4 linked regions of the Homo sapiens genome follow. The protein of the gene in region 1 interacts with the protein of each later gene in a pairwise test. Each region holds a gene or a part of one and is shown in the gene's direction. Other genes may lie near its edges. The genes, in order: SYNJ2BP, LRP8, THEM5 and ELOVL7.

Region 1 (7,035 bases):
TTCCTTGTAAATTTGTTTAAGTTCCTTGTAGATTCTGGATATTAGCCCTTTGTCAGATGGATAGATTGCAAAAATTTTCTCCCATTTTGTAGGTTACCTGTCCACTCTGATGATAGTTTCTTTTGCTGAGCAAAAGCTCTTTAATTGATCCCATTTGTCAATTTTGGCTTTTGTGGCAATTGCTTTTGGGATATGTGGTCACCCTACTTATGCAAGATTTTTCTGGGCCATAGCCAATGATTAGCAAGATACGTATTGAATAGCCTTTCCCTTTCTGGTGGTTTCCAACTGACATCTGTTTCAATTGGTTGGTCCATATGCTGGATGATTGCCGCAGAGTTTAGATATCACACTTGCTAGAAACTACTCTTAAGGGGGATTTCTAGGTCACATGCCATAGACGTACTTAATAAGTTTGAGTTCCTGTTTATAGATGGGTGGAATTTTAAAATCTGTCTTCCCATTTTTTAGGAGATTTTGCATTTCTACTGTATATTTATTCATTCTTTCTCTGTCAAACTATCTAGTTTGGAGCTTTAGCAGCCATTAGTTTATTGACAACTACTCCTAGCGCCTTATCCCAATAGAGCAACTACTATGTAGTTTATGAAGATTTTTTTTCGTATTTTATGTTATTGGCCCCTAACACTTACCCATTGATGTAGACAGGGCAGAATTTATAATTCTTATTTTTGTAGAAAAGGAAGCTGAGGATCAGAGGTAAACTGACTTGCTTCAGTCCACATATCTGGTAAGTTATAAACTTAGAACCAAGTCTTCTGACTTTGATTTGCTTCTACAATATCTAAAAGGGACAGGGAAAAGGATAAATTTGGGTTTGTGGTTAAAATAGGAACTGTCCAGGTTAGCTTTATATCTTCCTCAGAGCATAACGTAATGCCTAACACATAGTAAATGTTGATTTGCTTCTGCAATATCTTAAAGGGACAGGAAAAAGGAAAAACTCCAGTTTGTGATCAAAGCAGGGAGTGTGCAGTTTAACTTTATGTCTTCCTCAGATGATAACACAACATCTTACACATAAGATTCAATCAGTAATTTTTACTGAGCAAGTGAACTGGGGATTATGTAGGTATCCGTACAGCCCAGGTTCAGTTGGTCATGCCACTACTTAATGCTGTGGTGACTCTTTTATTGCAGCAATGCTTTGGCTTATAGATACACCCAGTTCTGTAAATATTCTGGCTGAACAAAGGGCTTCAGGTCAGTCCAGGAGTTCTCATGTTAAATAGTTTGGTTCATTTACAACAGAAGTAGCAACGGGTTATAAATGTACCTATATAATATGACTTCGATGGGGTGTGTAGTAGACGGCTCTTTTTTGTTTATGGTAAATCTCGGTAAAATTTCTTCTACTCTTCCTTTTTTTTCTACAGTTAGCTTTGAATAACCAGTAGCAAAGTCCTTTCTGTTGCTAACTACTACATTGCATTCAGCTGCTTAACATTTGCTTCCTGTTCCCAAGATCACCAGAGGCAACTGTAGCATTTGATGAGGGTGTTGGATTTCATCAAAAGATTTTTCTACATAGTTTGTTCCAGCTTGGGAGAGGTGGGTTGGCCTTGGCCCCCTTGTTCAAAGCTGTCACAGTTTTGAAGTCATTTCAAAACCTTCGATAATCTTGTTCCATCTGCTTTTCCACCTTATCTTACATTTCTGTACCTTCTCCAATACTTCCTACCTTCTATGATACAAATTGAGGGTGCTCTAAGAAAATCATTTAGTAAGTTAAGCTACTATTTTTAATACCCAGCCCTTCAAGGAAGTTAAAATAGCATCTTCCAGAAGTAGCACCTTCTTATTTATTTTTTTAGAGAATAGGGTCTTGCTATGTTGCCCAGCCAGGTCACAAACTCCAGAAGTAGCACTTTCTATTATGTATATTATTTTAGAGAATAAATTCTTTCTATTATCTAGCTGCAGAGATTTTATGCACAAGGTATGCTTTTTATGTATTTTATTTTATTTTTGAGATGGGGGTCTCACTCTGTCACCCTGGCTGGAGTGCAGTGACACAATCTTGGCTCACTGCAACCTCTGCCTCCCAGGGTCAAATGATCCTCCTACCTCAGCCTCCCAATGTTGGTCATGTGCCACCACGCGTGTCTAATTTTTTGTATTTTTGGTAGAGACGGGGTTTCACCACGTTGCCCAGGCTGGTCTCGAACTCCTGAGCTCAAGTGATCCACCCACCTTGGCCTCCCAAAGTGCTGGGATTATAGGCGTGAGCCACCATGCCTGGCTAAGGTATGCTTTTTAACTTAAATGTTTCCTGTTGTGTCTTTGTTTGGTCATGTTTTTCTTTAAATTACAAATTGATTTGCTAGTGCTTATGTTAATACTGTGAGCTTCAGGTGTAAGCTTTTCTCCCACCAATGGGGAGAACTTTCAGAAAGCCCGCATATGTCTCTTTTTTATTTTTTTTTTTGAGATGGAGTCTTGCTCTGTCGCCCAGGCTGGAGTGCAGTGATGCAATCTCAGCTCACTGCAAACTCCACCTCCCGGGTTCACGCCATTCTCCTGCCTCAGCCTCCCGAGTAGCTGGGACTACAGGTGCCTGCCACCATGCCCAGGTGATTTTTTGTATTTTTAGTAGAGACAGGGTTTCACTGTGTTAGCCAAGATGGTCTCGATCTCCTGACCTTGTGATCCACCTGCCTTGGCCTCCCAAAGTGCTGGGATTACAGTCGTGAGCCACCGCGCCCGGCCCCCCGCATATGTCTCTTTAAGTATCTTTTCTATTGAGAACAGTGTAGGCTGGTGATTATGGTTATTCCTTCCAATTGCACCGCTAGATTTTTGGTTTGTTTCCAAACTATCTCCTTTGTCTTACACTGTGCCCCTGAATTCTACCAGTAGCTGACATTAAGAAAGCCCTAGAGAAGTTCCTTTTTCCTTTTTATTTTTTTATGCATAGGTAAAATCCTTTCCTAACAACGGTTTCTGTACAGTAAAATCCTTTCCAGCACTTAGTCATTGGTCCATAGAAATAGCACTTTGGTACTCAGTTTTCTTTCCTTCTCTTTTTTCTTTCTTTTAATATTTTGTTTTACTGTGGTAGGAACACTTAACGTGAGATCTACTCCGAACAGATTTTTCAGTGTATGATATAGTATTATCTGTAGGCACAATGTTGTACAGCAGATCTCTAGAACTTAATTCATCTTGCATAACTAAAATTATATGCATTTAAAATAGTTAAACTCATAAAAACAAATATTAGAATGGTGGTTTCCAAGGACTTAGGGAAGAGGAACTGGGGAGTTGCTAATCAACGAGTAGTCAGTTTTTTCTACAGTGAATAAAAGTTGTCAATTACTATGCCCAAGTATAGATTGAGTAGCCCAAATCCAAAAATCTGAAATTTGAAATGCTTCCAACTCCAAAATTTTTTAAGGGCCAACATGACGTTCAAAGGAAATGCTCATTGAAGCATTGCAGATTTCAGATTTTTGGATTAGGGATATTCAACTGGTAAGTTTAATTCAAATATTCCAAAATCCCCCAAATTCAAAATTCAAAACACATTTGGTCCTAAGCATTTTGGATAAGGGATACTCAACCTATATATGGTTGTACTTGAAGTAGCGAAGGAAGGGAGAGTAAATTTGGTGATTTAGTCCTACCATGAAATAGCAGTTACCTTTCTGGTTCTGAGGTTTCTCTGCCAATACCTACACCACTGCCTCCACCACCAAAATGGAAAAAAAAAAAAAAAAAAAGAAACTCTCAAGAGATTTTTCTAAAGCACTATCATACATAAATTCTCCAGAAGCTTGGGAGAAGGAAAGTGTGGAAGGGAAGGTATGGTTAGAAATCTCTCACACTAAATTAGGAACAGTTCATTTGATAATTGGTAAAAATGCATAGCTTCTTTTGATGAACACAGCTAACCCTGCTGTAGTAATATCAGGAATGTCAGGAATTGGGTCCTTTGAATACCATCAACAGGATCAAAACTAAATGTGAGTAGAAGAACTTACATCTAGGCTGGGCATGGTGGCTCACACCTGTAATCCTAGAACTTTGGGAGGCCAAGGCAATAGTGATTGCTTGAGGCCAGGAGCTCATAACCAGCCTGGGCAACTGAGCTATGAACTCCTGAGTAGCTGGGATTACAGGCGCCCACCACTATGCCCACTAGCAAGACTCTGAAAAAAAAAAAAAAAGAAAAAGAAGAACGAACTTAGAGTAATCACCATTATTCTTTAAGTTCTATATAGATCTTTCTTTATATATTGAACAAAACAGGTGGATCACTGTGTTTATATTTTCAGTCGTGCCTCATTTGAGTGAGCAACTCAATACTCTTGATATGGCTGACCTTGTTCATGACCATTCACCAGCTCCATCACAGGCTGACTCGCCAGCATCTCCTCTCCATCAGCCTTTCCTCCCCAGTAGGCTTTCCCTCCCTTTCTCTTCATCTTCTCTAATCTCTTTCTTTCTTCTTCACCCCCATCTTTTTACTCCTCCATGATTTTCTCAGGGCTGGGCTTCAACATCGTCGGTGGGACAGATCAGCAGTATGTCTCCAACGACAGTGGCATCTACGTCAGCCGCATCAAAGAAAATGGGGCTGCGGCCCTGGATGGGCGGCTCCAGGAGGGTGATAAGATCCTTTCGGTGAGAATGGGCTTCGGCCTCCTTCACTGTCCTTTGCTCCCTAAGCCCTAGGTCCTACCCCTCCCTATCCCTTTTCCTTGAAAAGATTTGGATCTGGAAATATACAGGTTGTAGAGTTGAATGGGAACAACTTTGATCAGTCATTCTTTCCAACCCTATCATTGAGCATGGAGGGCAACATTATGCTCACCTGATAGATGAGAATGTGAAGCCCAGAATGTGAAGTTACTTGTTCAAAAAGCACAAGGCAGGAAGCAGCGAGGGACTCATATGGGGAAAAGAGATTTAAAATCCACAAATTTTGTCTTTCATCCATTACTTTATCACCTCCTTTTGTTGATTAAAACACTAATGTGTATCTTCCTTTGGGGGAATGTCAGCCCTTATAATTGGATTTAACATCACAAAACAGAAAGAAGGAAGGTTGGAGTTAAGTGTCCTTTTCAGACTCAGAGCCCTTTTTCACCCATTATTAACATGAAAATTTGGAATGCAGTTGATTTGGGTACCTGTCCGCTGTGTTCCCATTTCATCCTGCTAATGTCTCTACGAAGACATACTACATGGTAATTATTAATCTTACTATTTTCCAGAATATTTCCTCAAGGGCAGTGAAAAGATCCTTTTTTTTTTTTTTTTGAGATAGATTCTTGCTCTGTCACCCAGGCTGGAGTGCAGGGTCGTAATCTTGGCTCACCGCAACCTCTGCCTCCCGGGTTCAAGCGATTCTCCTGCCTCAGCCTCCTGAGTAGTTGGGACTACAGGCCCCTGCCACTACGCCCAGCTAATTTTTTATATTTTTAGTATAGACAGGGTTTCACCATGTTGGCTAGGCTGGTCTCGAACTCCTGACCTCATGATTCGCCCACCTCAGCCTCCCAAAGTGCTGGGATTACAGGCGTGAGCCACCGGGCCCGGCCTAAGATCTTTTTTTAACCTTTTGAATCATAGCACAGTGCTTAATAATGTTTAAGAAATGAACAAGTTAAGAAATTCAGGCAAACCTAAAAAGGTTGACTGATAAATATGGGCCCACAGACCTCAGGTCTTAAAATAAATTAGAACAAGCATACAGTCAAAACTATTAAAATGCAAAATATAACTCTGGCCCTATTGTTCATTTCTCTACCTTACCATGGGCCACAGTAATCCTATGATACTATCAGTTTGCTGGGGGATAAGGGAGTATAGTTGGAGATAATTATTCTGTAGAATTTCTTTTTTTATTAATCTTCAGGACTAGTGAAAAATGGCCAGCTTATTACTTGTATGGAAACAGTGCAGATGATTGGTATAAAGAATGGAAAAATGCTGAGGGGGTGAGATATTATCTAGAATATTCTTGGGAGAGCTGGCTTCAAAGGGCTAGACTTAAATAAAAGGAAATTGAAATAGGATAGGGCTTCGGAGCCCTATCCTCTCCAGATGGGCCATAAGCCCATGGTCCGAAGAGGAGAAAACTATTCCCTGTTTTCTTTTAGAACTGAATAGGGCAAGATGGCCACGTTGGGAAAACGTTGAAATAAATGAATGAAGTACAGACAGGAGAAGTCTTGATTGGCAGAATTAAGTATTGGTCTCAGATACATGATTTTGAACCTACCTCTATAATGAGTTAGCTTCATCCCTTAAAAATTTTTTGCTATATAGTTTCATTTGAATTTTCCCTTTCACATTACTTCTCATGCAGTTCAGGTGATTAGTGATTAAAGGTCATATGTGTGAAATCTCTTGCTCTTCTTAGTTGTCAGCTTATTGAACACCTCTCTGCCATGAAGCCCATTTGGTAGCAGAACCTGAAGGCAGAGATACAAAGGAAAAGAGAGAGAGAACATCCACCTTTTCTTCATTTGGCATCTGAGTATTTGAGTGATCAGGCTCAGCAGTATGGTTCTGAATGCCTCTTCAGGAAGACTGTGACTCCACTTAGTCCCCCAAAAAGAAAGAAAATCAGAACAAGTAGCTATTAGAGCCACCTAAATTAGCTCAAGAATGTCTAAGCATGTGTCCTCGCTGATCCATAATATAAATATAGTATCAAGCACTGCAGTATTTCAGTCCTTCTCATTGACTATTCTGCCTCTCTTCAGTCCATTAAGCTTCTCCTAGACCCTGTTTATTAATCAGTGAGATGGAGACAGTGATAATATACCTGTCTTCTCAAAAGGATAGTGAAAAGTTTAGAAGCAGATTATTTCCTTTAGCTCCCAAGGAAAGACATTCATCCAATATGAATCAACTTGGCAGTGGTACTGTAAGGAATGCTGAGAGTGGGTTGTTAAAATAAAGGTGTAGCATTTAGTTAGAATCTATGCAGCTTAATATTTTGACACATAAATTACATTATCCTCAGAACACTGGAACCTGGGCTCTGTGGATGAAGAATAG
Region 2 (7,035 bases), on another chromosome or scaffold:
ACCCTTTTGGGATAGCTGTGTTTGAGGTGAGTCCTGTAAGGAGAGGCAAGGGCCCACTAGGAAGCTGAAGCCTAGAAAATGCTTGTTCAAATAGGATGAGTCCCTGAGACTTGTTCAAATGAAAACAGGAACAGGGAAACCAACTGATTTGTTTGTAAACAATCTGTGAGCTGCCTGCACACAAAGGCTCTGCAGCCCACTCTCCACCTGGCAGCCTTTCCCACGCTCTCTTCCCAAGACCCCTCTCCCAGAGCACTTCTCACAGGTGAGCTGCTAGGCATGTATGTTTCCTCTCTGTGCCCTCAGCACCCAGCACTGTAACCCATATACAAAAGGCACCCAGTAAAGGGAGGAAAGGAAGAAGGAACATACATATCCTTAGAATCATTTACTGGAGGAAATGGCCTGAGAGATGCTGTTCAATTCTGCACACTTTTATTGACCTCTGCCAGACCCTGGGGTCATAGAAGTGAATCAGACACTATCCTAGTCTCAAGAAGCTCCCAGCAAAGTGAGGAGCGAAGACCCTCCTGTGCCCTGACCCTAATGACTTTTCTTCTCCGGGAATGAAGAAGCCAGAACCAACCAAGGTCTCACACCTTCACCTCTTCCCGAAAACTAACTCCACCACCAAGGGGAGGGAAAGCAAAGGGATGATGGTCTGTGGTGGGCATTGGCAGGATTTGCTTGCAGCAAAGTTACTCAGCACTGCTCTGAAGTTGTGGGCAAAGCTCCACCTCTAAGTCCAGCCCCTGCTTTAAAGGACAGGTGTGTTGGTACACAAGTGTTTGTGCTTGTTTATATACATGGCATGTACATGTAAAGTATGTGTATGTGCATGGGTAAATATAAATGCATCAGAATAAAAGTGTGCATTCCTCTAAGTGCTGGTGCTTATGTGTGTACATACATATACCAAGATGTATATAGACTGCATATTTAGGGGCAAATGTAGCTTTTTGTGTGTGGATGAACATTTGGGTATGTGTTTAGATCTGTGTATGAGGATGCACAGTTGTACCTGTACGTGTGGATTTGCTGACAGATGCACATCTAGGCTTATATGGACTAACCATGTGGACTCGTGTGGATACCCAGAGGCTACAGGAAGCCCAGCAAGGCATAACCCTCATAGCTCACACATTCCTTCCAATCTTGGTCCCAGGCCCCAGTAATGATAATGCTATAGAGATTTAACCTTGGGTTTCTGCTGGGCTCTAGCAAGCAGGCTTAGTTCAGCATGAATGAGTAATGTTGTGGCTGTCAGTTCAAAGCACAGAATCACTGAATAATCCTCTAAGATAGAAGGGAACAAGGAGACGTGCATCACAGATTAGAGGCTGAGAGCCCCACCGTGAATCCATAGACAGGACAGATCAGGGGAGATTTCAGGGAAGTTCTTGTGACTATGGTTTGGGGCCAACCCCTCAGACTGAGGTCATGGATTTACACTCCAGGCCTCCCATCCTCTGCATCTATACCCCACAGGACAAGGTGTTCTGGACAGACCTGGAGAACGAGGCCATTTTCAGTGCAAATCGGCTCAATGGCCTGGAAATCTCCATCCTGGCTGAGAACCTCAACAACCCACATGACATTGTCATCTTCCATGAGCTGAAGCAGCCAAGAGGTGAGCTGTCTCTGGTCCTAGGTCCCAGGTCCCCTGACTGTGTCACTGTGTCCTCTCCTTTCACCAGGCAGGCTGTGTTCACATTCAGGTCACAACTCAGCAACCCCAGGAATAATAACAACAATCCCTCTTGTTGGTAGAGTACTTTTTCATCATATATTTTGTCTCATTTTACCTCAAGTTCTTTGTGAAATAAGGCTGGGTATAAATGAATACATAACTGTCCTGTTTTTGCCAATCCTACAAAGTGTGGGTATTACTCTTCTAACAGTTGAGGAAACGGAAGCTCAGAGAGGTAAAATAATGTTAGCAGGTGGCAGAACTGAAACCTAAACCCAGGTCTATCTGGTTCCACAGCTGCTTTCACCATGACACACTGCATCTAACTTGCTATTTGTAGCCATTCTGCAGTAGTATAAGCTAATGTATCCGAGGGCCATATAATAAGTCAGCTTATTGGTTGGGAATAGAATCTAGGAATCCTACTACTAGGTTGTCCCCTCCTCTATCACTAGGATACATTAATTCTAACTGTAACTGAAGTGTTGGCTGCCAGGGTGAAAGAGGGAGAGCAAGGGAGTGTAAGGAGCTAAGATTGGTGCCTGATTCTAGACCTAGAAATTTAAATGAGAGACATAGTATGTGGCACAGGGAAAAATAAAAACCGCGGGCTTATGGGCTTTGGAGCCCAGCCGACCTCAATTTAAGTTCTATCTCTAGTCCAGACATGGTGGCTCATGCCTGTAATCCCAACACTGAGAGGCTGAGGCAGGAGGATCCCTTGAGCACAGGAGCTCCAGGCAGCAGTGGGCTATGATTGCATTACTGCACTCCAGCCTGGGCGACAGAGCAAGACCCCTACCTCTTAAAAAAAAAAAAAATTCCTAGAGTATAGGTTTGACGAATTTGTTCTCTTTGAGCCTAGGTGTCTTTATTTGTCAGTCTGGGATGTAACGTCCCCACCTCTCAGAATTGTTGCAAGGATTAAATGAGAGTGTAGGGATAAAACACTAGGTATGGTGCTGGAAAGTACCCAATAAAAGTAGTAGGGAGGCCAGGCATGGTGGCTTATACCTGCAATTCCAGCACTTTGGGAGGCCAACGCAGGAGGATCACTTGAGCCCAGGAGTTTGGGACCAGCCTGGGCAAGAAGGCAAGACTCTATCACTACAAAAACTATAAAAATGACCCTTGTATGGTGGCATGCGCCTATAGTTCCAGCTACTCGGGAGGCCGAGGTGGGAGGATTTCTTAAGCCCAGGAGTTTGAGGCTGCAGTGAGCTATGATTGCACTGCTGCACTTAGTCTAGGCAACAGAGTGAGACCCTGTCTCAAAACATAAAACATAAAAAAAATTGAAAAAGTAGAAGGGCTTCACAATTGCAGAGATGTGGAACCAACCTAAGTGTCCATCAACTAATGAGTGAATAAAGAAAGTGTGGCATATATACACCTTGGAATACTACTCAGCCATAAAAAGGAACAAAATAATGTATTTTGCAGCAACTTGGATGGAGCTGGAAGCCATTATTCTAAGTAAAGTATGATAGTAGTGGAAAACCAAAAACTATATGCTCTCACTTATAAGCAGGAGCTAAGCTATGAGTACACAGGGGCATACAGAGTATAGCTAAGCTATGAGTACACAGGGGCATATAATGGACTTTAGAGACTAAAAATGGAGAAGGTAATAGCGGGGCTAGAGATTTAAAAAAAAAAAAATTACACATTAGGTACAATGTACACTACACTTGGGTTACAGGTGCGCTAAAGTACCAGAATTCACCACTATATAATTCATCCATGTAACAAAAAACGTGTATCCCAAAAGCTTTGGGGGATAAAAAAAGAAAGAAAAAGAAAAAAAATGTGAAAAAAAAAGTATAGGGCAAGCTTTTTGAGCAAGCCAGGTGGGAGAAGCCTCATCCTCAGGAGGCAGGAAGACCTGGCATGTCCTGTCTGTGCCCCAGCTGTCTCCCTCTCTGCCATTAGCTCCAGATGCCTGTGAGCTGAGTGTCCAGCCTAATGGAGGCTGTGAATACCTGTGCCTTCCTGCTCCTCAGATCTCCAGCCACTCTCCCAAGTACACATGTGCCTGTCCTGACACAATGTGGCTGGGTCCAGACATGAAGAGGTGCTACCGAGGTAAGCAGACCTTCCAGGAGGGATGGCCCCTGGCAGTGTCAGACCCTACCCTGCTGAAATCTTCCCTTGGCTTCTGGGACACAGTATGCTGCTGGTTTTCTTCCATCTTCCCTGGTTACTTGTTGCCTTTTGGGGGTTTCTCTTTTTTACCTTCCTTGAATGCTCATGCCCCCAGGATCCTTCCAAAGCTTTTTCTCACTCCCAAGGAAAAAATGCACATATACATAAAACATTTTAAATTCAGTTTCAGGGAGTTTCTGGAACGCTTTAAAAACCTCAAGTTAAGAACCCTTAATCGCCGTGGCTTCAGGTACATGCAGATAACTATATATTTGCCTGTTTCTCACCTAGAACTTAACAAACACTACACAGCAGCCCTTTTGCAATATAATTGGGACTAATAGTTAATACTTCAACCGCATACACAGATTCATGTCCTAATCTTGATGTATAGCCAAGGCCTTTCATTTGAGCCTAAGTCTACTGCATTATTAATGATTTACAGGTTCAATTGTTTAAAGTGGAATAAGAATTTCAATCTATTGGTATAACAATATATGAGTGTAAAATCCTTCTAGATTTATCTGATTTCCCCTCCCTACAGTCTTTTTATTGCTGATCTTACAACTAATTCCACAGCAATGTTTTAATGACTCATCTTTATTGAATCAAAGTGAAGTGCTTAGCATTCAGCTAAAGAAAAGATCATAGCCCACTGGGGAGATTAGGAAAGGCTTCACAGAAGTGGCATTTGAGCTACGCCATGAAGATAAGTTCCTAAGTATATCTCAGAGGCAATACCTTAGGCAACAAAATTATCTGTCCAAGTGACCTCCATGGTATTTCCCCTCCAGCACCTCAATCTACCTCAACTACGACGTTAGCTTCTACCATGACGAGGACAGTACCTGCCACCACAAGAGCCCCCGGGACCACCGTCCACAGATCCACCTACCAGAACCACAGCACAGAGACACCAAGCCTGACAGCTGCAGTCCCAAGCTCAGTTAGTGTCCCCAGGGCTCCCAGCATCAGCCCGTCTACCCTAAGCCCTGCAACCAGCAACCACTCCCAGCACTGTAAGGAAATGAGTTCTGCATTCTTTCATGACATGGGAGGGCTCCTAGGGAAGCCAGGAAGGGGGTATGTGATAAGACAGAACCTACCAGAGCTGAATACTGCATATCTTTGAGGAGGTTACTGCATATCTGAGAGGGAGGTAGAGTACCAGCCTGCGATTTAGGACTCATAGGTGCCCCTACCTTACAGAGGGTCTTGTAGGAAGCTGAGACCCTGTGAGCCTCAGTTGCTTCTCTTACAAAGTGGAAATAACCACCCTTCCACAACCTGCTTCACAAGATTGCCATGATAGACAAAGGTGTAACCGGTATAACTGGAGGTGCTCACGCACACAGCCGTTGCTGACTCTGCGAGGGTGTGTGTGTCTATGTTTCACAAAGTTCTGATGTGTATATGAGGAGGTGTCCCTTGTGTTTGGAAAGCTCTGATCTCAGTTCACAGCAGGTCCCCAGATAGTAATATCTACAACCATGGTCTCCTTATACCTCTTTCCAACCCTGGGATGAAAATAATTAAGTTCACCACTTATTAAATCATTGGGAGCAGTAATTGTCACTGCTAGAAATGTTCTATCTCATTAATCAGCAAATACCTTTTTAATTGAGTTACCTGCCAGAGGGAGTTCATTTAAAAGGATAAACTATCTTTTTAATTTTTTCCCCTACATGGACAGCCCAGAAACCAAGCTGCTTGGCAACATCTTCCTAACTGGTCCTATTTGCCAGCAGAAGCTGGCTTTTTGGAGTGGAGCACTTACTCCGAAGTTTGCAGAGGCAGATGGAGCATGTGTGAATTCCAGTTCCTCTCATCTGAGGGCAGAGCCTCTCACCAGCTTCTCCTCACTGGCTTCCTCATGCTCTAGGTTTTAATATCACTGTCCAGTGTTCGCTGTGGCCCAGAGCAGGGAGGACAGCAGGGAGGACACAGTTAGCTCTGGAAGCAAGCAGTGCAGCTTTTTCTCCCCTTAACTGTTAGATTCTCTTGGAGTAACATGGATAAACAGTCACATTGAGAGAGGATGGGCCTTGGGCCATTGCCGGGACAGTCATCTCACCTGCAGCAAGTGTAGATGATAGCTCCTTTTCACACCACAGGGAGCTGTCAGGAGGATCTAAGGGAAAAATGCTTTCTGAACTATAAAGTGCTTCACAAATGTTACAATGAAGATGGTTATAAGAGTGAGAAAGATGGCATGGCATAGTTTTTCAAAAAGACAGTAAATTTTCCAAGCACTTTTCAGTTTAAAATGTGCTTTTACATATCTTTTTAAAATTTAGACCCTATTCAACAACCCCATCCCACTCTCCACCCTCTTAGAACTAGGCAAAGTTGTGCCAAGCATTTTATATTCATTTTAGATAAATTATTTCATTTAATCCTTACCATATCCCTAGGAGGTAGGTAATATCACCATTTTAAAGATATAAAAGTATAATACCATGTGCTGTATTTATAATATATAATAATTTGCCCAAGGTCACATGGGTAGTGAGTAGTAGAGCTGGGACTTGAACCCAGAAGTCTGACACAGAAGTCTGCGCTTTTGATTCCTCTACACTATACTATGTCCCATTTCAATTACTTATGAAAAATAATCTGATAATGCAGATGGACAGACAGTTCACAAAAAACAATACTGGCAAAGCAACAGATACTGATGGAAAAAGGCAAATGACCTAGTCCATCAGCAACATAAAGACCTAAGTGCTCACTTTGCCATGCACAGCCCCCAGCTTCCTACTACCATGATGCTATGGAAAGGGTATGGGACTTGGGACATGAGTCCTGGGTTCAAGTCCCAGCTCTGCCACTTTTCTGAAACCCCTCAGTTAAGACTCAGTTTCCTTGCCTGTAAAATGGAGATAACCTCTGTCCTGCTTGCCTCACAGGAGTTGTGATAGGATCTGGAAAGACTGAATTATTAGGCAACAGCCAGGATCATCATTTTAGAATGAGGATGAGCAGCAGTTGGGTAGTTCTTACCACTTGAGGCCAGTAGGGGCTTGGACACACAGTGATAGAGCATCATTCTGCAAATGTTTGTGTTTTGCAGATGCAAATGAAGACAGTAAGATGGGCTCAACAGTCACTGCCGCTGTTATCGGGATCATCGTGCCCATAGGTGAGTGTGGCCCCCAGTCACTGAAGAGAAAAGAGAGACCCTGCTTAGGCCTAGGGAA
Region 3 (4,147 bases), on another chromosome or scaffold:
CTGTGGGACTCTGAGCAAGCAATTGACCCCTGGTCTTTAGTCTTCTTACCTGAAACCTGGGGCAATAATATCTACCTGCCAGGGTGACCAGAGATATGATATTATGGGCCTATGTGTGCGTGCTCATGAACCGTAAAGCACAGTACAGCTATCAGACACTTCTACCCAAAACCCATGTTCTATCCATGGGGAAATGGAGATGCACACAGCTAAAGTAACTTGCCCGAGGCAGCACCAGCAATCAAAGTCAGATCCAGGACTCTAATCTGGGAGGTGAGATTCCAAGTCCACTGTTCTCTCCACTCTACTCTGCTGCCTCCAGACTTGGAACAGACCTCAGGAGGAATGCACACTGGGCATAAATGTGTCCACAAGGGAAATCAGGCTGACCGTGGGTCACCAAGTTCATGGTTGTCCCCCTTCTCTTCCATCCGGATGCCTGCTCCAGACAGTCACTGAAGGCTGGAGGTGGTGCTGGAGCTCCTGCAAGGGAGAGACAAGAGAGGGCAGGAGTGGCTTTAGGGTCCTGAAGCCTGAGAGGGGCTTAACTGGGGTTAAATAGAATCCAGAGTGCTAAATAGATGTCAGGGCCTCCAGAGGCTGTGGATGCCAACTGCAGCCCTCAGTCACCTTGGCCATCCCAAAGGAGTCCTCCACAGGGACACTGCTCCACACACTAGGCTGTGCAGATACTAGTGAATTGCTCAGAGCCCTGCCCAGGCCATGGACTCCCTCCTTTCTGAAGCATGGCTGACTTTTATTTAGGGGCTGATGGAAGTGAGGCCAAAGAGGCAGAGGAGGACCATCCAACACTAAGGCCAGTCAGTGGATTGAGGGGTTGGGGGTCTAGAGAAGAGATTAGTATCCACCAGGCCCCTAGACCATGGGGAGTGGGAAGGAGGAGTTACTCGTTGGCCAAGAGCTACTCTGTAGATCCACATACTGGCCAATGGGTCCCCAGGCTGGCCAGTGAGGACAAGGAGGAGAGAGTTGGTTTCGAGTTCTTTGACACCAACTCTTTTCACTCTCTTTCAAGCAATTTGGGAGGCAGACAGGGAAGTGCCTAAGAAGTGTGTAAATTATGTTTGCAAACATTTGTTTATTTAATCTGCTGAGATCAGAATTGTGAAATTCATGGTGGAAAAACTAAGGCTCAGAAAGGTTTAGCAATTTGCTCAAGATCAAACATGTAGTGAGCTGTGGGACAAGGAGTCCAACTGGGTGGATAGAGACTAAAGAAGCAGGGAGGGAAGGGTCTGGAAAAGCCACTGGTCACAGCAGCAGGAGGGTAACCCATGGCAGTACAGTGTGGACAGCTGATCTGGCTCTGTGGAGAATGGGCTGTGCTTTTGAAAATCAGGAACTCAAATCTGCTTGGTGTTATTTGAATTCTAAAATGGGTGCCTATTTTCCCAAATTAGCCAACCATGAAGTAGCTGACATAAAGCTTGCAAAAGCAAGAATGAACATTTTACGCTTTTTTTTTTTTTTTTAATTTTGAGACAGTCTTGATCTGTTGCCCAGGCTGGAATGCAGTGGCACAATCTCAGCTCACTGCAACCTCCACCCACCGGGTTCAATCGATTCTCATGTCTCAGCCTCTCGAGTAGCTGAGTTACAGGCGCTTGCCACCACACCCGTCTAATTTTTATATTTTTTAGTAGAGACGGAGTTTCACCATACTGGCCAAGCTGGTCTCGAACTCCTGACATCAAGTGATCTGCCCACCTCAGCCTCCCAAAGTGCTGGGATTACAGGCGTGAGCCACTGCGACTGGCCATTCTATGCATTCTAAATAAAGCAAATGTCTGCGGCATTTGAGCATTTCAGCTCAATTTCAGCATTGAGCCTGCTGAAGCAGGCGCTCTGCTTTCTGTGGCAACGCTGCTCAGAAGTGTGTCATGCCAGCCCTTGATAGGTCATAAGTTATGTTTCACATTTACTTATCTTGAGATGTGGGCCCCGCACTGGCTGTAGTGACTGGTAAGGTGAGAAACAGCCCAGGGTTGTGCCTCAAAGACTGAGTCAAAAAGTTCAGGGACTTTTTCATTTCCTGTATATGCCCATCCTTCCAAATTATGGCAATTATTGCCAGCAATTAGGTAATGAACCAGAAAAATGTTTTCTATTAACTTTATCAGAAAAAAACAATTTCCCTGATGAAATAAAATGTTGTATCATTGGCTGCAAACGCATGCTGAAGCAAAACAGAAAAGCTCAGTTGATTTTGACGGGTTTGATCAGATGGGATGCAGCTGTTTCCTTCTTTCCTATTTGGCTGCCCTGAGGCTGAACGTCTGTGTTTGGAAGGGTCTAGGGAAAGGGAAAGGTAGGATCACCACAGGAGGGAGGGAAGGCCCATTGAGGGGGTCTGCCCAGCAGCCCCAGCCCAGGCCTTGCTCCTCACCTTACCCCACCCCCAGGTTTGCTCACGGCGGGTCCCTGGCAGCCATGATGGACGAGACCTTTTCTAAAACTGCCTTCCTGGCTGGAGAGGGGCTGTTCACACTAAGTCTCAACATCAGGTTCAAAAAGTAAGTATGGGCCCCTGGGGCATTGGCCAAAGTCACAGACCTTTTCATCCCTGGAAGTGGCCATCCTCGGCAGCTGGGGTGTAGGAGCCCTGCCTGCCACTCTCCTTCCCCAGCCCACTCCCAAGCAATTCCTCTAGTCCCTGGCCAGGACACAGCCTCTGCTGTCCAACTTTGGGAGCTGACAAAAAGGCCCTGAGCCCAGGGCCACTTCTGAGTCCTCGAGGCCGGGAGGGATGAAGAGAGGGAAGAGGACACAGAGAGTGAAGGGATGGGGAACCGGGTTCACATGAGAGATGGGCTAAGCTGCCTCGTCTCCCAGCTTGATCCCCGTGGACTCTCTGGTTGTAATGGACGTAGAACTGGACAAGATTGAGGACCAGAAGCTTTACATGTCCTGCATCGCCCACAGCAGAGACCAGCAGACAGTTTATGCCAAGTCCTCAGGTAAAGGAGCCCCCAGCCCAGCCCCAGGCCCCGTCCCACCACCACCCACCCCCAGAACAAACAGGAGGAAGAAAAGATGCCAATGATTCATCCCAAGCTGCGGTCCAGCTTCTTTAGGGGTGGGATAGGGCACCTACTAGGGACACAGATGAAGCAAGGGAGAGCAGAACTAGGATTTTTTTTTCTATATATGAGTTATCCAACCTGTAACGAAAGGACAGGACCCAGGTAATGGGTAATTTGCAGCCAAATGCTCAGAGTGTCCATCAAGCTCCAGCCATCTCAGTGCAGCTCTTGCAGCTCAACTCACCCTTCTCTTGCAGGTGTTTTCCTTCAGCTGCAGTTGGAAGAAGAGTCTCCCCAGTAACAGTCACTGTGCCTGCAGGAGAGCCACTGCCTCCCCTGCCTGCCTCCTGCCTCCTGCCTCCCCTGCCTGCCTCCTGCCTCCTGCCTCCCCTGCCTGCCTCCTGCCTCCCCTGCCTGCCTCCTGCCTCCTGCCTCCCCTGCCTGCCTCCTGCCTCCTGCCTCCCCTGCCTGCCTGGGACCCATCAAAGAGCAGGGAGGGGTCCTCAAGCAGCAATTGGTGAGGCGAGGGAAAGGACCCTTTTCTCTGAGTAAATAAAGTCTCACAGTCCCATTCTCGGCCCAGGGCCTTTCTGTGGTTGGAAATCAAAATCCTTCCAGGGCATCTCACATACCCACCTTCCCATTCAGCACCGACTGAAAAGATTTACTGAGTACCCGCCAGGTGTCAGGCACTGTGTGAGGCACCAGGCACCCAGAAGTGAAAGACAGGGCCCCGGTCTCAAGATGCACAATGCGGGAGCCAGGTGCCAAGTCAGAGTGCCCTATCACGCTCCTCCCACACCCACCCTGGCTTCCATCATGAGTGCAGTGTCATCTCAGCGGGAGGAAGGGCTAATTTTACTCTACAAAAGCAATCAGAAAACATCTTCTAGAAGAAGCTCTTCCTGAACTGTCTCAAAAGTTAAGTGGTGTTCATTAGGCAGGCAGGGGAGAGGAGGATATCCCAGGCAGAAGGGAAGTAAGAAGTAAGACAAAGGTGCAGAGGTGTGAAAGTGTACAGGGACTTTGGAGAAGAGCAAGGTGTTGAGGAGGGCAGGCGTTTAGGGAAAGAGAAGGTGGGCAGGAGCAAACCACAGGAAGGC
Region 4 (7,035 bases), on another chromosome or scaffold:
TGGGAGGCTGAGGCAGGTGGATCACCTTAGGTCAGGAGTTTGAGACCAGCCTGGCCAAAATGGTGAAACCCCATCTCTACTAAAAATACAAAAGTTAGCTGGGTGTGTTGGCACATGCCTGTAGTCCCAGCTACTTGGGAGGCTGAGGCAGGAGAATCGCTTGAACCCAGGAGGCAGAGGTTGCAGTGAGCTGAGATCATGCCACTGCACTCCAGCCTGGGCAACAAAGGAGACTCTGTCTTAAAAAAAAAAAAAAAAAAAAAGGAAAGTAATTTTTTTTAGTATTCTGTGTTTTCCATATAATACCTAGTAAGCATTTTTCATCTTATGTAATTTTCAGAACTCATATTGTTTGTATTCTAGTAATTATAATGTGATTTACTTAACTAAAACTCTATTGTTGGACAAGTATATTAGCAACAAATTATAAACAACCTAAGTTATAGTAATACTTATCTTTGCAGTTGTATCATTTTACAAGTTGGGACTCATTTCCTAATGATACTGTTCCAGAAGTAGAATTACTTCGTCAGCAAGTATGGTCATTTTTATGGTTCTCAATACATGCTGTCAGATTTCTAAAAGCGATTTTAAAAAGAGGATCAATGCATTTTACCTAACTTCTCTCTCTAGGAAGTAACAGCAATTCAATTAAACATGAACAGTATTATTAAATGTTGTATTAGTTTCCTCAGGCTGCCATAACAAAGTACCACCAACTGGGTAGCTTGAAAAAACAGCAATTTATTGTCTCACAGTTCTGGAGGCTACAAGTCTAAAATTAGGGTGTCAGCAGTGTTGAACCCTTCTGAAAGCTCTGAGGGAGAATTTGTTCCATGCTTCTCCTAGGTTCTGGTGACAGCAGCAATCTCTGATATTCCTTGTGCTGGCATCACTCTAATCTCTGCTTCTGTCTTCATATGCATTTTCCCTTTGTGTCTGTGTCTTCACATAACCATCTTATAAACACACCAGTCATATTGGATTTAGGGCCCATCCCACTCCAGTATGACCTCATTTTAACATCTGCAAAAATTCAATGTCCAAATAATAGCACACTGTGAGGTATTGGGGGTTAGGATTTCAACATATCCTCTTTGGGGCACACAATTCAACCTGCCATAGGGTTTTCAAATGTGCATAAAAGAAAGCGCCTATCTGCAAATAATTTCTAGGCAAATTGAGAAAGTAGGATTTTTTCTAATTTTTGAGATTTGTTTATTCTCCATGATGTGCCACTTGTGCTTATCAGTTTTAAGATACAGAAGGATGCTCTTTTCTCCCCCCGAGACAGGGTCTCTCTCTGTCACCCAGGCGGGAGTGCAGTGGCACAGTCATGGCTTTCCGCAGCCTCAATCCCCAGACTCAAGCAATCCTCCCACTTCAGAGTCCCCAGTAGCTGAGACTACAGACACATGTCACCATGCCTGGCTAATTTTTTGTATCTTTTATAGAGACAGAGTCTCACTATGTTGCCCACATTGGTCTTGAACTCCTGGGCTGAAATGATTCTCCTGCCTCAGCCTTCCAAAGTGCTAGGATTACAGATGTGAGCCATTGCACATGGCCTGGAAGGTTGCTATTTACCAAACACGGAATTCCGGAGCCATGGTAAATGGTAGCATGTTAAACTGAGAATAGCCAGAATTTCAAGAAGATACATCACGTAGCATGGAAAGAAGCATGCCATAAACACACTTTTAGAAATATGTCTTACATGTGTTTCAGTGACTCATCCAGTTTTGACCATGCACAGTTGCAAAAAGTTGAAAACTAATACCAGTTGGGCATTTTATATCACTGGTCTTTGAAAAAATTTGAAATTTCCATTATTCCTAATTGATTTCTAAAAGTACATATTATTACATTGGCAAGTGAAATCACTCTTTTTGTAAATGATAGAAGTTGGCATACCATCATAATTTCTTTTCCTTTCTTTTTTTTTCTGAGACGGAATCTTGCTCTGTCGACCAATAAAGTTGTGCGATCTTGCCTCACTGCAACCTCTGCCTCCCAGGTTCGGTGATTCTCCTGCCTCAGCTTCCTGAGTAGCTGGGACTACAGGCTCATGCCACCATGCCCAGCTAATTATTTATTTATTTATTTTTGGTAGAGATGGGGTTTCACCATGTTGGCCAGTCTGTTCTCGAACACCTGAACTCAGGTGATGATCTGCTCACCTCAGCCTCCCAAAGTGCTGGGCTTACAGGCGTGAGCCATCATGCCTGGCCCATCATAAATATATATATATATATATTTTTTTTTGACACTGTTTTGTTCTTGTCGCCTGGGCTGGAGTGCAATGGCGCTATCTCTGCTCACTGCAACCTCTGCCTCCTGGGTTCAAGTGATTCTCCAGCCTCAGCCTCCTGAGTAGCTGGGATTACAGACACTCACCACCAAGATGGCTAATTTTTATATTTTTAGTAGAGACGGGGTTTCACTATGTTGGCCAGGCTGCTCTTGAATTCCTGACCTCAGGTGATCTGCCCTCCTCAGCCTCCCAAAGTGCTGGGATTACAGGCAGGAGCCACCACACCTGACTCATAAATATTTTTAAACAGACTATTATTCAAATGAGATAAGTTTCCACATAGCTTACAAATTCCCCATGTTAAAGACAAATCTTAATCAATCTGGATAAGCAGCTACTTAAGCCATGAACACCAGCAGCCCTGCTTCTTGGACTTTCTAATGTAGGGTAAAAGAGCCAAACCTAGATAAAACTGGGGAGTTTCAGAAGCTGCACACTCAACAAACATTTGAGTGTTAGCTTTGTGTCAGGCAAAGGGGCTGGCAGATTGCTAAAGCCAGTCCAGGTCCATGTGAGTTATAGACAAGTAAATGTAAGTTACAAAATTACAGTTCAGTATGATAAACTGTGCTGTGATATACACAGACCAGGTCCTGGGGAGGCAAGGCAGAGGCGGGCAGACAGGAAGTCCTTCTGAGAGGAAAGAAGGAAGAGTGCGAGTTAGGGCAGCTGAGAAATGGGACGAGGAGTGGGAAATAGAATCTAGGGAGAGAGTGCAGGTGCGATCAGGGAGATGCAGATACTTTAAAGTAACTAGGAAGAGGGTGTGAGTTGAAGTTGCCTAGGCATGCAGAGGCCAGGCTTACTGAGAGCATTTTTTGACCCCATAAAGGTTTTGGATTTTATCATAATGTCAGTGGGGAATCCTGGGAAGCCTGTAAGAAGGAAAAGGATGTGTTAAGATTTGAATCTCTCTGGCGCTTGCCATTTCACCTTTATGAAACCTCTCCTCCTCCCATCAGGCCTTTATCTCATTTCCCTATCTGATCTGGAAAGGACAGCTACCTTCCTTGTTTACATTAGATATCTTTTTTTTGAGACAGAGTTTTGCTCTTGTTGCCCAGGCTGGAGTGCAATGGCATGCTCTTGGCTTACTGCAACCTCCCGTGTTCAAGCAATTCTCCTGCCTCAGCCTCCCGAGTAGCTGGGATTACAGGCATGCACCATCATGCCTGGCTAATTTTGTATTTTTAGTAGAGACGGGGTTTGTCCATGTTAGGTCAGGCTGGTCTCAAACTCCCGACCTCAGGTGATGCACCTGCCTTGGCCTCCTAAAGTGCTGGGATTACAGGCATGAGCCACTGCGCCCAGCCTACATTAGATATCTTGATTATGCTTAGCTTGCATGTGAATTTTGAAACAGAAAATCAACTTCATGGGCATCATCTGTACCTCTGTCCTTACAGGATACTCAAGGCTGCATTTACATTTAAAACATCTTATTGAAAATTATGGGGTGAAAGGTTTGTCATCTTTTAGGCATAAGTAATAGTTGCAATGAATCTCTCTTTTTTTTGAGGTGGAGTCTCACTGTGTCACCCAGTTTGAAGTGCAATGTTGTGATCTTGGCTCACTGCAACCTCTGCCTCCCAGGTTCAAGCAATTCTCCTGGTTCAGCCTCCTGACAAGCGCCACCCCCACCCCCCACTCCCCCCCCACCCCCCCGCCCTACCACGCCTGCCCGGCTAATTTTTGTATTTTTAGTAGAGACGGGGTTTCACCGTGGTGGCCAGGCTGGTCTCGACTCCCGACCTCAGGTGATCTGCCCGCCTCAGCCTCCCAAAGTGCTGGGATTACAGGCGTGAGACACTGCACCCAGCCTGCAGTGAGTCTCTTTACTTGTATTTTCTAATGAATCCTTTGAAGCCAGCAAAGTCTGGCTCATCATATGCACAGGTACAGAAAGGTGAAAAAAGCAGAAAGGGTGCTCAGGCTACACTGGTAGAAGTATGCAGCCAGGATTTAAACCTAGGTGTAATTACAAGGTTTAGGCTCTCCCCACTCTGAATACTAACTCTCTGGGTTGATATTTTTGAGAATATAGGAGGCCCTAGGACTCTGATATCTTACAATAGTTTTGTGAGGGCGTAAGGGCAACCATAAAAATAAACCCAATTTAGATTTTTTAGTGTCAATGGTAGAAACGTGAGATCTAGACAAAGAGAGTTTCACTAGCAGCCCTTAATCTAAATACAGCCCCATCCCCCAACTCTTCTCCTTCTTTCTGTCCCAAATTTTTGGGTTTTGTCCTAATAGCACGCTTGTGATTTGTTTGTGTGTTTATTTTAATTAAATGCTCTAACAAGGGCAGAACAAAAGTAAAGGGCACTTATTACTTAAGGGTGACTTATTTTAAGTCTGTTCAGGGGCTTCTCTGCCCCTCAGAGTCTTACCTGTCTTTTTGTACCTTCTTCAGGCAGACAGTGCTGTGTTGCATCCTGTAGGACAGAAAGATTTATGTCTCAGAAATAAACCAGCCAACGAACAATGTTGACCCACATTTTAATCCCTTTGCTGCTTATCATTCAGTTAGCTAGAAAGCACAGCTGATAGCTTCATCCTTCATCCTCTTCTTCGTGTGTGACTAACAGGTGTGACTTTAACTTGAAGAAAGAAAGAAGATAGAAATGGCATTCCTAGGAATCCAGAGTCCAATGACGAATTATTCAGTAGCTTAGGGTGAGTTCCTGAGCCAATGTGGAATGGAATTTTTTAAATCAAGCTGTGAGAACCACTATTCATTCTTCTAAAGGAAAAAAATGGTAGTGGATGTGATATTTAACATAAAATATAGTCAGTGTTTTTAAATAAAATGTGTATATATATATATGGTTGAACATATGCAATTGCCCTTTCTGTAGGTGAATAAACAGTTGGATGTTGGCAGTTTGCATATGGTTCATCCTGATTCAAATACAATACCGTTGACATCTAACAGTTGACCAATGAGCCTATGCTCTTCATTTCCCTATAAGCACATGGGGTGGTGCCCAGGCATGATGAACAGTGGCTTCTAGTAGTCTTCTTCCTTCTCCAACTGCTGGGTTATTGGCTTAACAACAATTTATTGTATTTATTGCAAACATGTTAGTGCCAGTTATATTTGTTATTGTGATAGATAATTTAGATATGCGTGAACTTATGAAACGTAAGTGCAAAAAAAGAATATTGTTATTGTGAAAGGAATGTTGAATTCTTTGGAAAGGTTCCATAAAAGTGAGTCACTAAGGGGTCAGGAAAACTAAAAAAATCAGAAAGATGGCTGGGTGCAGTGGCTCACGCCTGTAATCCCACCACTTTGAGAAGCCTAAGTGGGAGGATCACTTGAGGACAGGAGTTGAAGACGAGCCTGGGCAACATAGTGAGACATCCATCTCTACAAAAAATTTAAAAAATAACTGGGTGTGGTGGCATGCGTCTGTAGTCCTAGCTACTCCAGAGGCTGAAGTGGGAAGATCCCTTAAGTCCAGGAGGTCGAGGCTGTAGTGAGCTGTGATTGCACCACTGTACTTCAGCCTCGATGACAGAGTGAGACCCTGTCTAAAAAAAAAATTCAAAAATAAAAACAGAAATTGTAAAAACTTGAAAAATATCCTGAGCTTGCCTTAAAAGTGTGTGTAGTTGTTTTATTTTGTTTTGCTTTGTTTTTAATTCACTTAGAAAGTTAAAACTGGAAATTGTAGATTAAGTTCTAGGTATGGTTTATAGCAGAAAAATATTGGTGAGGAGCTCTTCCTCAAGTACAGTCTTGGGACTACTCTGTCTTTTTTTTTTTTTTTTTTCAAGATGGGATCTCACTGTGTCACCCAGGCTGGAGTGCAGTGGCTTGCTCTCAGCTCGCTGCAACCTCCACCTCCCGGGCTCAATTGATCCTCCCACTTCAGTCTCCCGTGTAACTGGGACTACGGGTGTGTGCCACCACGCCCGGCTAATTTTTGTATTTTGGTAGAGACAGGGTTTTTCTGTGTTGCCCAAGCTCGTCTTGAACTCCTGAGCTCAAGTGATCTGCCCGCCTTGGCCTCCCAAAGTGCTGGAATTACAGGTGTGAGCCACTGTGCCCAGCCCTTGGGACTACTTTGGAAAATTGGAGAATTAATGCCTATTTATATATTTTTTTAAAAAGTAAGTGTTTATAGTATCTAAATAAATTTTTCATTCTTTGCTATAAATAAATTTTTAAAAATCAACTAACCAAAACTAGTCAGAATTCCTGCTCCTGTTAGTCTGACTGTAATAGTTTACGCTATAGTGTAGTAAGTAGTCAGAACCTTCACTTAGCATTCCATACTAATGGTATATAATCAACTCATACTTCTTATTTTATATCATTTTTTGAGAGACAGGATCTCACCATGTTGCCCAAGCTGATCTCAAATTTCTGGCATCAAACATTCCTCCCATCTCAGCCTCCCAAGTAGCTGGGATTACAGGTGTAAGCTACTCTGCCTGGCTCATGCTTCTTATTTTAAATTGGGCTTTCATTAATAACATCTATATAACATTTAAGTTTATTTTAATAATGTGAACCGGTCGGGCGCAGTGGCTCACGCCTGTAATCCCAGCACTTTGGGAGGCCGAGGCGGGCGGATCACAAGGTCAGGAGATGGAGACCATCCTGGCTAACACGGTGAAACCCCGTCTCTACTAAAAATACGAAAACAAAATTAGCCAGGTGTGGTGGCGGGCACCTGTAATCCCAGCTACTTGGGAGGCTGAGGCAG

The links.
Region 2: the proteins of SYNJ2BP (region 1) and LRP8 interact in a two-hybrid assay, tested with the Homo sapiens proteins (one study listed by BioGRID).
Region 3: the proteins of SYNJ2BP (region 1) and THEM5 interact in binary tests that used the Homo sapiens proteins (3 or more experiments, as listed by UniProt).
Region 4: the proteins of SYNJ2BP (region 1) and ELOVL7 interact in binary tests that used the Homo sapiens proteins (3 or more experiments, as listed by UniProt).

The regions. Positions count from the first base shown.
Region 1 is NC_000014.9:70,386,082-70,393,116, reverse strand, and holds part of SYNJ2BP (synaptojanin-2-binding protein), read left to right. Parts: intron 1-4,510; coding exon 4,511-4,647; intron 4,648-7,035. Other genes in the region: SYNJ2BP-COX16 protein, read left to right, coding at 4,511-4,647. UniProt on the Homo sapiens protein: Regulates endocytosis of activin type 2 receptor kinases through the Ral/RALBP1-dependent pathway and may be involved in suppression of activin-induced signal transduction.
Region 2 is NC_000001.11:53,255,059-53,262,093, reverse strand, and holds part of LRP8 (low-density lipoprotein receptor-related protein 8 isoform 1 precursor), read left to right. Parts: coding exon 1-26; intron 27-1,488; coding exon 1,489-1,630; intron 1,631-3,622; coding exon 3,623-3,775; intron 3,776-4,629; coding exon 4,630-4,854; intron 4,855-5,612; exon of another isoform or gene 5,613-5,966; intron 5,967-6,838; exon of another isoform or gene 6,839-6,908; coding exon 6,909-6,977; exon of another isoform or gene 6,978-6,997; intron 6,998-7,035. UniProt on the Homo sapiens protein: Cell surface receptor for Reelin (RELN) and apolipoprotein E (apoE)-containing ligands. LRP8 participates in transmitting the extracellular Reelin signal to intracellular signaling processes, by binding to DAB1 on its cytoplasmic tail.
Region 3 is NC_000001.11:151,846,569-151,850,715, reverse strand, and holds the end of THEM5 (acyl-coenzyme A thioesterase THEM5), read left to right. Parts: exon of another isoform or gene 1-483; intron 484-2,423; coding exon 2,424-2,534; intron 2,535-2,853; coding exon 2,854-2,978; intron 2,979-3,301; coding exon 3,302-3,345; coding exon of another isoform or gene 3,346-3,596; 3' UTR 3,597-3,615; downstream 3,616-4,147. UniProt on the Homo sapiens protein: Has acyl-CoA thioesterase activity towards long-chain (C16 and C18) fatty acyl-CoA substrates, with a preference for linoleoyl-CoA and other unsaturated long-chain fatty acid-CoA esters.
Region 4 is NC_000005.10:60,834,252-60,841,286, reverse strand, and holds part of ELOVL7 (very long chain fatty acid elongase 7), read left to right. Parts: intron 1-7,035. UniProt on the Homo sapiens protein: Catalyzes the first and rate-limiting reaction of the four reactions that constitute the long-chain fatty acids elongation cycle.